4 separate regions of the Homo sapiens genome follow, and all the other regions are linked to region 2. The links come from fine-mapping of genetic effects on gene expression. A gene starts in region 2. Each other region holds a variant in brackets. All regions are shown on one strand. Distances are between the middles of the regions.

The links. PIP is the estimated chance that this variant, and not a neighbour inherited with it, causes the effect.
Region 1: its variant is fine-mapped to the expression of NT5C3A in whole blood (INTERVAL, PIP above 0.99).
Region 3: its variant is fine-mapped to the expression of NT5C3A in putamen (GTEx, PIP 0.90).
Region 4: its variant is fine-mapped to the expression of NT5C3A in whole blood (INTERVAL, PIP 0.90).

Annotation. Positions count from the first base shown.
Region 1 is chr7:33,016,884-33,019,571 of GRCh38, forward strand. It overlaps NT5C3A (5'-nucleotidase, cytosolic IIIA), which reads right to left. Exons shown (of 9, transcript NM_001002010.5): 7 at 556-718. Among named protein-coding and RNA genes, the nearest start is that of NT5C3A, 45 kb to the right of the region's middle. The variant C/T (reference allele first, on the strand shown) is at 1,251.
Region 2 is chr7:33,061,218-33,063,905 of GRCh38, forward strand. NT5C3A (5'-nucleotidase, cytosolic IIIA) reads right to left here and starts at 1,559. Exons shown (of 9, transcript NM_001002010.5): 1 at 1,351-1,559. The coding sequence starts at 1,488. It overlaps LOC124901610 (a long non-coding RNA gene), which reads left to right and starts at 1,968. Exons shown (of 4, transcript XR_007060279.1): 1 at 1,968-2,431. RefSeq lists silencers at 1,194-1,253, 1,554-1,673 and an enhancer at 1,914-2,073.
Region 3 is chr7:33,012,799-33,015,463 of GRCh38, forward strand. NT5C3A (5'-nucleotidase, cytosolic IIIA) reads right to left here. Exons shown (of 9, transcript NM_001002010.5): 9 at 1,332-2,033. The coding sequence ends at 1,932. Among named protein-coding and RNA genes, the nearest start is that of NT5C3A, 49 kb to the right of the region's middle. The variant A/G (reference allele first, on the strand shown) is at 1,702.
Region 4 is chr7:33,038,622-33,041,309 of GRCh38, forward strand. All of the region lies in intron 1 of NT5C3A (5'-nucleotidase, cytosolic IIIA), which reads right to left. Among named protein-coding and RNA genes, the nearest start is that of NT5C3A, 23 kb to the right of the region's middle. RefSeq lists a silencer at 2,307-2,406. The variant T/C (reference allele first, on the strand shown) is at 1,402.

The DNA.
Region 1 (2,688 bases), 44 kb before region 2:
TTTTAAAGTAAGTTTTAGGCTATGTGTGGTGGCTCATGCCTGTAATCCCAGCACTTTGGGAGGCCAAGGTGGGAGGATAACTTGTGGTCAGGAGTTCGAGACCAACCTGGCCAACATGGTGAAACCCTATCTCTACCAAAAATACAAAAATTAGCCGGGTGTGGTGGCAGACGCTTGTAATCCCAGCTACTCGAGAGGCTGAGGCAGAAGAATTGCTTGAACCCAGGAGACAGAGGTTACAATGTGCTGAGATTGTGCTACTGCACTCCAGCCTGGGCAACAGAGTGAGACTCCATCTCAAAAAAAAAAAAAAAAAAGAAGAAGTTTTACTACTTTTATTATTAGTCTATAGCTTGGGGAATGAAAGTTTAAGAAGGGCACATTGTTTTTAAAATATGGATATATTAACACTGAGAAGGATGGAGTCCCACAGTGGGCCTATCGGCTTGGCCTAATTTCTGGATATAGGATATATATTAAGTAACAATAAATAAATTTACATGATTAAAATATTTTCAGATTTTAAAATTATGAAGAACGATTTGATATTCTTACAGTTTCATCAAAATCCATAAAATTGGACACAACTTTGACATTGGGATGATAAACACCAGCTTGACGAATAACTTCCTCTAGTACATCGCCGATTCCAGCCGAAAATATGAACACGGGGATGCTATGTTGTTGGAGCTTATCAAAGAAATTCTCATATCCTTCTCTGTAAGATGGAGATAACAAACTGGTTATTAAAGAGCAAGATATAGTTCCTTTTTACTTAGAAGCTAAAAAAGTGAAATATTCCTAGTAATTCTATGGCTCACTCATATTCTCATTTCAATATACTGCCCAAGAGGGCTGTTATTGATATCTACAATACTACAAGTTTTTCAAACAACAGTTAACTCTTTACTTTCCCTTTAATCAATTCTAATACTACAAACTAGATGTCTTTAAGCTTTCACTGAATATGAATATAAACCTACAGTTCACAATTTATACCATTTAAAAAGAAATAGGCAGGCATAGCAGTGCATGCCTATAGTCCCAGCTATTTGGGAGGCTGAGGCTTGAGGATTGCTTGAGCCCAGGAGTTCTAGTCCACTCTGGGCAACATAGCGAGACCCTGTCTCTAAAATGAAATTTAAAAAGAGAAAACAATAGTTAAGCTACACCTTGAAAACCCCACTTAGGGGTTAAAACATGGATATATTAACACTGAGAAGGATGGAGTCCCATAGTGGGCCTATCAA[C/T]TTGGCCTAACTTAATGGATATATATTGACCAACAACAAATACATTTACATGATTAAAATATTTTCAGATTTTAAAATTATGAAGAATGACTTGATATTCTTACAGTTTCATCAAAATCCATAAAATTGAAAAGAAAAGCAGAGTGGCAGGAACTTAGATGTATTCTCGACATCTGGCATGTGTCTTTACTAAGATCTTAAGCCCTCTTCCCTTTTTTACCCTTCCTGGGCCATAGGTTAAAGAATGCTAATGTTGCCTACTAAGGAATGAAACACTTACTAGCTGTCCTCACACTTTTTCTGACAATTTATTGCTTTCCTTTTTAGAAGTAATCACCTTAAAATATAACATCATCATAAAAAAGTAACATCATCATATTTGCCTAATGAGTTGAAAATTTTACGAGGTAATAAACAGTATTAAACAGGCTCTTGGGCCGGGCGCAGTGGCTCACGCCTGTAACCCCAGCACTTTGGGAGGCGGAGATGCGCAGATCACAAGGTCAGGAGATCGAGACCATCCTGGCTAACTCGGTGAAACCCCGTCTCTACTAAAAATACAAAAAATTAGCCGGGCGTGGTGGCGGGCGCCTGAAGTCCTGGCTAGTCAGGAGACTGAGGCAGGAGAATGGCGTGAACCTGGGAGGCGGAGCTTACACCACTGCACTCCAGCCTGGGTGACAGAGCGAGACTCCATCTCAAAAAAAAAAGAAAAAAAAAAGCTTCTTGTATCTTATAACTCATGCATACATATATAATTATGTACTAAAACATACTAATCTTTCCTAGGAATAGTTTTCAAAGAAGTTCGAGAATTTAAAAAGTAGGCTTATGTAAATTTAGACATAGTATACTGCCAGGCATGGTGGCTCACACATATAATCCCAGCACTTTGGGATCGCTTGAGCTCAAGAGTTCAAGACCAGTCTGGGCAACATGGTGAAATCCCATCTTTACAAAAATATACAAAAATTAGCCAGGCATGGTGGTGCATGACTGTAGTCCCAGCTACTTGAGAGGCTGAGGCAAGGGGATCGCTTGAGCCCAGGAGGCAGAGGTTGAACTGAGGAAGAGATTATGTCACTACACTCTAACCTGGGCAACAGAGAGAGACCCTGTCTTTAAAAAAAAAAAAAAGTATACTTAAATCCCTTTTAACTTGATTTATACATTCCTTTCATATGTCTTTCCTAAGTATTTTGCTAAAAAATTTTTAAATGGCCTTGGTTCAAAAATTTTAAGTCTTGACATTTTTAATCTGGAGAAACAAAATACAAATTAGAATTTAAATCTCATAAGGCTCTTACTACCTACACCAAGATCTAATACGTCATTCTAAATTCCTTATCTTACCACTATGTATTTTGTGATAGGTGGCATATTTTGGATATGGTTATATAAGGAATATTCAATCTTATTTTTAAAAAGTACAACTGAC
Region 2 (2,688 bases):
CAGGAAAGCAACAAAAGCAAAATGAAACTTCTGAGTTAAAACCATTTGCTGCTGTGGGCATACAGATGTGGGACAAATGAATTTTAATAAGCCTTTAGAATTATTAAGACCCTTTAAGAATAAATTAATTCAAAATTAGGGAATATTATTGGAATATGAGACAAGTGGGAATTAACTTTTTTTTTTAAGAGACAGGGTCTCGCTATGTTTCCCAGGCTGGAGTGCAGTAGCTATCCACAGGTGTGATTATAACCTTGAACTCCCAGACTCCAGTGATCTTCCTCTCAGCCTCCCAAATAGCTGGGACACTGGCTAATTTTAATTATGCAAATACATCTGTATTCAACCTGGGGTCAGTACAACCAATAGGACAAATCGTGTCTTTCGTCAGTTGGAACATATTGCAGGTGCTCAGAAATTCCAAGTATTACACCCTAAAATGATATTATTTAGTGTAGATTTTAAATTTTTTTCTATCATAAATCATCTGACCCTAGATGTTCACATGTATAGCACACGGTCAGGCGTATACCCAGGATTATGCATTTCAGGAAATACATAAGCGTGCAAGTTTGTGCAAGAATTGTCTTCCTGAGTGGGTTCTAATTAAAATACAAAACGAAACTAAATATCCTCATTTTTGAAACAATTACTTATAATGTATCTCAAAGGGAATTCTTGAGACACCCTCTTCAATAAAAAATTAAATTCGAAAATGTATACAAGAGCTTTGGGAGTTAAGATGAAAACAAAGATATTTCGTGGGAGTTTTGAGACAAGAAGGAATACATTCAAATACAAAATAAACTATCCTGAATTTCTCCTGGATTGCCATTCTTGTAAAATTTTAGATATTGCACATTTTCATAATCTAACTCACGGCAGCCCCAACATAAAACTAGTCCTCTGCGGGAATTGCAACTAGATTAGCGGCAACGGTTTGACGCGGATCCGGGGGGAGGGCGGGAGCAAGGCAGGGAGAGAAGGAGCCACCTGCCCAGGACATGCAGCTTATCTCTAGAGAAACGGGTTTTGCAGCACAAAGTAGCCTGTGTCCGATTCATCTATTTTCTGCCTTGTTCCTTCAAACGGAAACCTAACAAAGACCACGGGCAGCCAAGGGCCGCAGCCGGGGACCCAACCCTGGTCACCAAGCCCGCGGAGTGGCCGCACGCGGGGCGGCCGGGTCCCCCAAGCTGCGCGTCCCGAGCTAGCGAGATCCCAGCCTGACAGGCGACGCCGGCAGCTCCCCGTCGCGACCGAACAGCGGCCCAGCACAGGCTGCCGAGGCCAGCGGACGGCCCAGCCGGCCCCTCGCGTGCTCTGGGCGCGCCGAGCCTCCACACTCACCATCTCGATGATCTTGGTCTTCCGCCCCGTCTTCCTCTTCAAGGTGAATATGTACTGAGCCAGCACCACCCCCGCCACCAGGGCGCACACGCTGGCGCTCGCTACCGCGCCCACCCTCGCCACGGCCGCGCGGTCCATGGACGGGGCCCTCATGCGCGTCCAAGCAGGAAAAAAACAGGCAGCTCGCGTAGACTGCGAGTCTCGGAAGCGCGGGATCCCAGAGCATCACGGACGAGCCCGCGACGCCCCGCCCCGCGCAGCGACGCCCCGCCCCGCGCAGCTCCGCCCCCACGAAGCCCCACCCACACGCCATCGATGGGAGAGGCCAGGACGCGGCGGGAGGGGTGTGGCCTGTGCCCGGAGCCCAGGCTGGAGGCGGCCTTCAGCAGACTCAGGGTCTCACGAGCTGCTGTCAGGGCAGGGCAGAGTATTGCGGTAATTATCCTTCTCTGCTAATGAGGATTAGGCCGTGGTTCGCTCGAGCCCCGCCCCAGTAGAAATCTAATTCCAACTGCGGCCCGCTAAGAAGTCGGTCTCCGCCTTCGCGCCTCAGCCCCTCTGGACTCCGACCCCCAGAAGGCTGCGCGGCACGGTGTGACCTGCGCAGTGGCGTCCGTTCTAAGTGCTATAACAACAGGGGGAAGATGGCTCAGAGTTAGGCTGGAGAGGGGCGGTGTCCCTTCCGCCGCAGCCGCGGGGTTTCTGCTACATCCCATTCGCCACCTCCGCCATCCTTTTTTCTGTGTGAGCAGAAGGGCTTGCAGTTGTTCTCTCCTGCCTAGTGTCTTCCAAGGGATAGATGCCATTTCTTCTGCTGGTCTCTGGGGGTGAGGAGGGGCGCAGGGGAGCTTCTTGGGGGAATCGCTCCAACTCTGTGGAGCTGGTGGTGCTGCCTGGTGGGGCTCTCTCTGCCCAGGACGTGGAACAACTTTCAGCCGGAGGACTAGAGGAAATAGTTGTAGGGGAGGAAAAATTGTTTCCTTCTAGCCTTTTAGGTCATTTGGCTGGTCTACAAATTAAATTGATGTAAGACAGAGGAACATGAGAAAAACGATTTGTCGACCGAAAGGTGAAATAACAGGTACTAAAACTTAAAGAAATCATGGTTAGTTTTATTACTCGGCCAAGTTTGAGGACTTAAGCCTGGGAACACAGACTCAGTATAGACCGAGAACGTGTCCCAAAGTAAGTTAGCTGGGAGTATAACCTGAAGAAGACTGAGTTTTAATACCCAGAATATTTGAGTATCAATATCTAGACTACTGTGTCATTTTGTCGCCAAAGTAATTTTTTATGAATCCAGTTTTGCACCAAATACCAATATGACTTAAATGTTGT
Region 3 (2,665 bases), 48 kb before region 2:
AGAAACACTTAGGCAGGGTCTAGTCTGCCTTTTGCCATTGCATTTTTGTTTCATTGTTTATTTATTGAGATGAGGTCTTGCTCTGTCACCCAGGCTGGAGTACAGGGGCATGATCTCAGCTCACTGCAAGCATTGGCCCCCCGGGCTCTAGCAATCCTCCTACCTTAGCCTCCTGAGTACCTGGAACCACAGGTGCGCACCATCATGCCTGGCTAATTTTTTGTATTTTTAGTAGAGACTGAGTCCTGCCATGTTGCCCAGGCTGGTCTTGAACTCCGCCTTGGCCTCCCAGAATGCTGGGATTACAGATGTGAGCCACTGCACCTGGCCTCATTATTTTTATGCTTTTTTGAGATAAGTTCTTGCTCTGTTGACCAGCCTGGAGTGCAGTGGTGCAATCACAGCTCACTGCAGCCTCAACCTCCCCAGGCTCAGGTGATTCTCCCACCTCAGCCTCCTGTGTAGCTGGGACTACAGGTGCATCACCATGCCTGGCTAATTTTTTGTAGAGACTGGGGTCTCCCTATGTTGCCCAGGCTGATCTCAAACATCTAGGCTCAAGCGATCCACTCGCCTTGGCCTCCCAAAGTGCTGGGATTACAGGTGTGAGCCTCCGTGCCTGGCCTGCTTCATTGCTTATGATGATGAAAAGGAGTGGTGGGGGAGGATAAGGATGGGCATTCCCAGGACAAAAAGGTTTCCTAACATGTGACCTTGCCTTCCAGCCACATCTGACTGAACTAGAGACTGCTGCTCACACTGGATGGCCAGAATGAATCAGATCATGCTTTGTGTGTATCATAGCTCAGGTGCTTATATAAGCAAACCAATTAGGTGTTCATAGGATCTGGAATTAAGGGTAAGAATCACGGTCAAATTGATCACAATGGCAGGTCTAAATCCTGAAGATGAATGATGAGGCAGAGCCAGAGATGTGGAGTGGGTAGCTGGACTGTACAGAGAGATGCTGGCTCCTAATGTCGCAGTGCTGCTCAGATTCAGTCACCACGAGACCCAGCTCCACTGCTTCCTGTCTCGGCTTCTGAAACTTGCAGACTTGTACCTTTTACTGATGTTTTAAATGGGAGAAAATAATTTTCAGAGGTCTCAGTATTTTCTGAAGGGCAGACAAAATTTTCCCTGAAATATCTTTAGACTTAAATAATTTCTGAAAATATTCAATCTAAATAGCCACTATGACAAGGACTTTAGAATTTATATATCACAAAAGACAGGCAGACGGAGAGAAAGAAACAAGAAGAAAACAAAAAACCATGGTAGGTGCTCAATAAATATTTGTTGACTCAGTAAAGATAGTTTTGACCATAGAATTAAAAAGGTTTTGCATTTCATATTTATTATCAGTGCTTCAATATAGAATGTTTTGTAATGATTAGCAACATTGTAAACACCACCAGGTTTTTCCAACACTAACTGCTAGTCTTTTCCAGTAAATATTTTTTCCCCAGACAAAATAACCAAACCTAACACAATTTCAAGAGATGGTGATACCATCAGCATAATAACCCAAATTACAAAAATGGCAATACTTAAAATCATGCATATTATTTCACCATTTCATAAAACTTATTTTAAAATTTCTACAAACTTTCCCAGTGTAAAAGACTCCTCAAAAGCTGCATGATAACATTAAACTACAAAATTCACTTTGGAAAAGTAGGGAGTTATTTTTCTAATTTT[A/G]GCTTTTTTTTTTTTTTAAATGGGTTAAAAGATACGGTGAGGAGTGTGTTGAGAGAGGTGGAGAAAAGGAGCTTCCAGTCAATGCATTCACCATATCTGAAAATACTTCAGTTATACAAAGGGAACACTTCGAGAGTAAGGATATATTATAAATAAGTCTCTCAGCAAGATGAACGGATGAACAGTTCAATTGCACCCACAGGAGAGAGGTCTTCTTGGAGAATGCTTGTTTATAGAATCTTCTGTAAAATAGAGTTGGCTACTTCTAATGATTCATCTTGTACTAAAACAATATCATAAGAGTCCATGTACTTTTCTAAAAGCTCATCCACCTAATCAAGAGATGAACAAAAGAAAATTAACATGCAGGGCAAAGAAACAAATAATTTCAGTATGAATCTCGTTGTTAGATCTCTTGGGCAAAATGCAATAAATTAAATTCACTTTCAAAAAATCTTTGAAATGAAGAAATATTTTCAAATCCTTAAGACCCACTGACAGACATTTTTCCACATGGTAGCTTTTCTCCCCAAAATGCTCTCTCTCCAGTCCAGTGGCTTTCAAATGGGGTGATTTTTGTCCACGGAACATTTAGTAACGTCTAGGGACATTTTTGAGTCTCATGGCAGGAGACTGCTATCCAGCATCTAGTGGGCAGAAGACACAGAGGCCTCCTACAGAATACACATCCTCCCTTTTCCCAGTACCTATAGCATGCATCTCAGCTCCTTTTTAAACATCACCAGTATAAAGAACAATCAAAATGCATGATCACAATATGTTTTGGCTGGGCATAGTGGCTCACGCCTGTTATCCCAAGCACTTTGAGAGGCCTGGAGAATCACTTGAGCCCAGGAGTTTGAGACCAGCTTGGGCAACACAGGGAGAATTCATCTCTAAAAAAAATTTAAAAATCAGCCAGGTGTAGTGGTGTGCGCCTGTAGTTCCAGCTACCTGAGGGGCT
Region 4 (2,688 bases), 23 kb before region 2:
AATCTCACATAAAGTGATACTGCAGTCCTTATACAAAAATTACTCTAAGGTCTTATCATTTAAAAAGTGTAAAGACTCAGGTGTAAAATGTCAGCATTCTGGCACTATTCTAAGGAAGACACTGAAAATTAGGGCAGAGTATTTTTAAACCAATAGGCTTGTAAACCTATACCTGGTATATAAAGTTCTGGCTTACTTTGCCAATGGTCATCTGTTGCAGATGCTTCAAGAGAAGAGTTGCTGGAAAAAACACATCAAGTGTAGAAGACGTGTTCAAAAATAGAAAATACTGCCCTTGATCTACGAACTCTCTTCAAAGGAAGTTTTAACATTTTAAGTCTTCAGAGTCTTTAAATGTGAACTGGAAAATGTGGAAACTGGAAAATAATTACTTTGTGTGCTTTTTGTATGAGATTAAGGTCTCTACTATAGCAGAGTTCTTTACAAGGAATATGTAGGACAAGTCTAAAGACTGAAGCAAGAGGTAAGAACTTCACTTAACACAAACTTGATAACTGAAAACTTTAGTTATCACAGTATTTCATTCTGATGATAGTTTACAAGTCAATTAATGAAAATTGATTGGTATGTCTACATGAAAAAAAATTACCTGATTTAAAGCAAGTCTTAAAGTACCTGAATGCAAACTGATTACTTTTAAAGGTCTACTTGACTCTGTCTTACAGGAAAGTGAAAAAGATTAAATTCATGAATATAGCTTTAAAAACTGTGACTGCTTTAATTGTGATACTCGCAGAAACATGTAAACTACATTGATAAGGTAATAAAATTGTGAATGCTAAACTGTGTATTACTCACATAAGAAAAGGCATATATTACCATAATATGGACACAGTATCCGCAACAGTACCAAACATCAATTTTTCCTATACTTTTTCAGTAACCTGTACTATTTGACTTTCTTAAGCTTGGGTTTTTTGTTTTTTTTTTTTTTTAATGTTACTGTCTTCGGGTGATTAGCACATGCAAAATCAAACTGTAACTTCATCTTTTCTGTATGGCTGTAATAATTTGGTGGGGCATTTAAATAATTCTTCCTAATTAGATTTTCAACTCAGCGGTGGGGAAAAAGAAACACACACGCTGCAAAGTGAAACTTTCTCAATACAGGCATAAAACAAAAATGAAACTAAATAGCAAAGAGTGGGAGGGGTAGAAGAGATATAGGAGGAAAGAGGAAAAAACAGATTTCAAAAGCTAGTTATTTAAAAATGGGCAATTTTAACCAATTTTCCCAAATGGTAAAGCAGCTACTGAGTCAGAATTTTGTGGATATTTATGCAAATAAACAATTTCAATGTTTAGAATTTATTCCTCTATCCTTCCCACATTCACTACCTCTAATATCTAATAGCATTTTTTCAAGATAAGTAAACCACA[T/C]ACAGCACATGGAAACTAAGTAATTTATACTGACAACCCTTAAGACACCCTGAGTTCTTCTGTCCTTGAATTTGTCCTAGGACAACAGCATAGGTGACAAGCACTACCCAGAGATGCCGGGCTTGGATGCAGGCTGCCAATAAAAACTAAGCAAACTGCTTTAAGAAATGATCTGCAGCATGATCTAACTTCTCTGATTTAAAGGAAAAAAAAACCTATAAAATATAGATAATTCAATTATTTAAATATAACTTAGCCATAATATTCTAGGCTTTTACTGTAATATAAATTTTTGAATCTTAATTTTCAATATATAATTTGTTATAAATCAGTAATCTAGCTTTTATCAATTCATAAAACATACCAGTGATAATCCCATTCTATAAAATCCTGGGTAAAGCTCACATGCACAAAATAAAAATTGATAATCTTTATTACTACCCATAATAACTGTTCCTAATCCTAGTAACACAAAGCTTGTGGCTGTCAGTAAAACTGAGTCACATAGCCAACTGAATGAACAACCAAATTGAATCTTAGAGTGTTTCCCCTCAACCTGGAAAGAGACTTCTGAAGGTACTTTGCTTTTTCTCAACATCTACAGGTGAAACAAGAAGCTCTTAAAATTAGAACATATAAAATGTAATTTCTGAGACCTAAGACTCTTCAAAGTTTTGCACATTCATTTCTTCACAAATTATAAAGAAGTTTTGCATTATACTGGAACATTATTTTATTTCCTAAGTTTGTATTTCAAAATGCCCAAAATTTCAGTAAGTTATAGAATCAAATAAGAATCACATAAAGTTAGACAAGAGAAACTCATTTACATGAACCGTACACACTTACCCTGAAGGTAACCGGACGAGCTACACCAGCAAAAGAAAATTCTTCCTGTCTGAGAAGTACTAATATAGCACAAGGTGCAACTGAGGGCGGTTCCAAAAGCCTTGACTAAGCCCTATGCAAAAACCTTGTGACGCACTGCTGCACAGTACTTTATATATGCTCTTGGTTACAGCCTCGCTAGCTCTGAGCTAGTCACAAGTCAATCTACATAACATTATCAATTGAAGTTATGTGACGATTAAAGAGAAGGTAAATCTGTACTATTAGAACTGGCAACTGGCTCTGGAAAGAAAAGAGGAACCTCTACACTAACACTTAAAAACATTCCTTTCCACCTGGTTTGTCAGTGGTTTGTCAGTGTACTTCTGATATGTGAACTTTTCTGTATATTCTATTTTAATACAAAGTTAAAAAGATTAGGTTGCTGTTGCCAGGGCT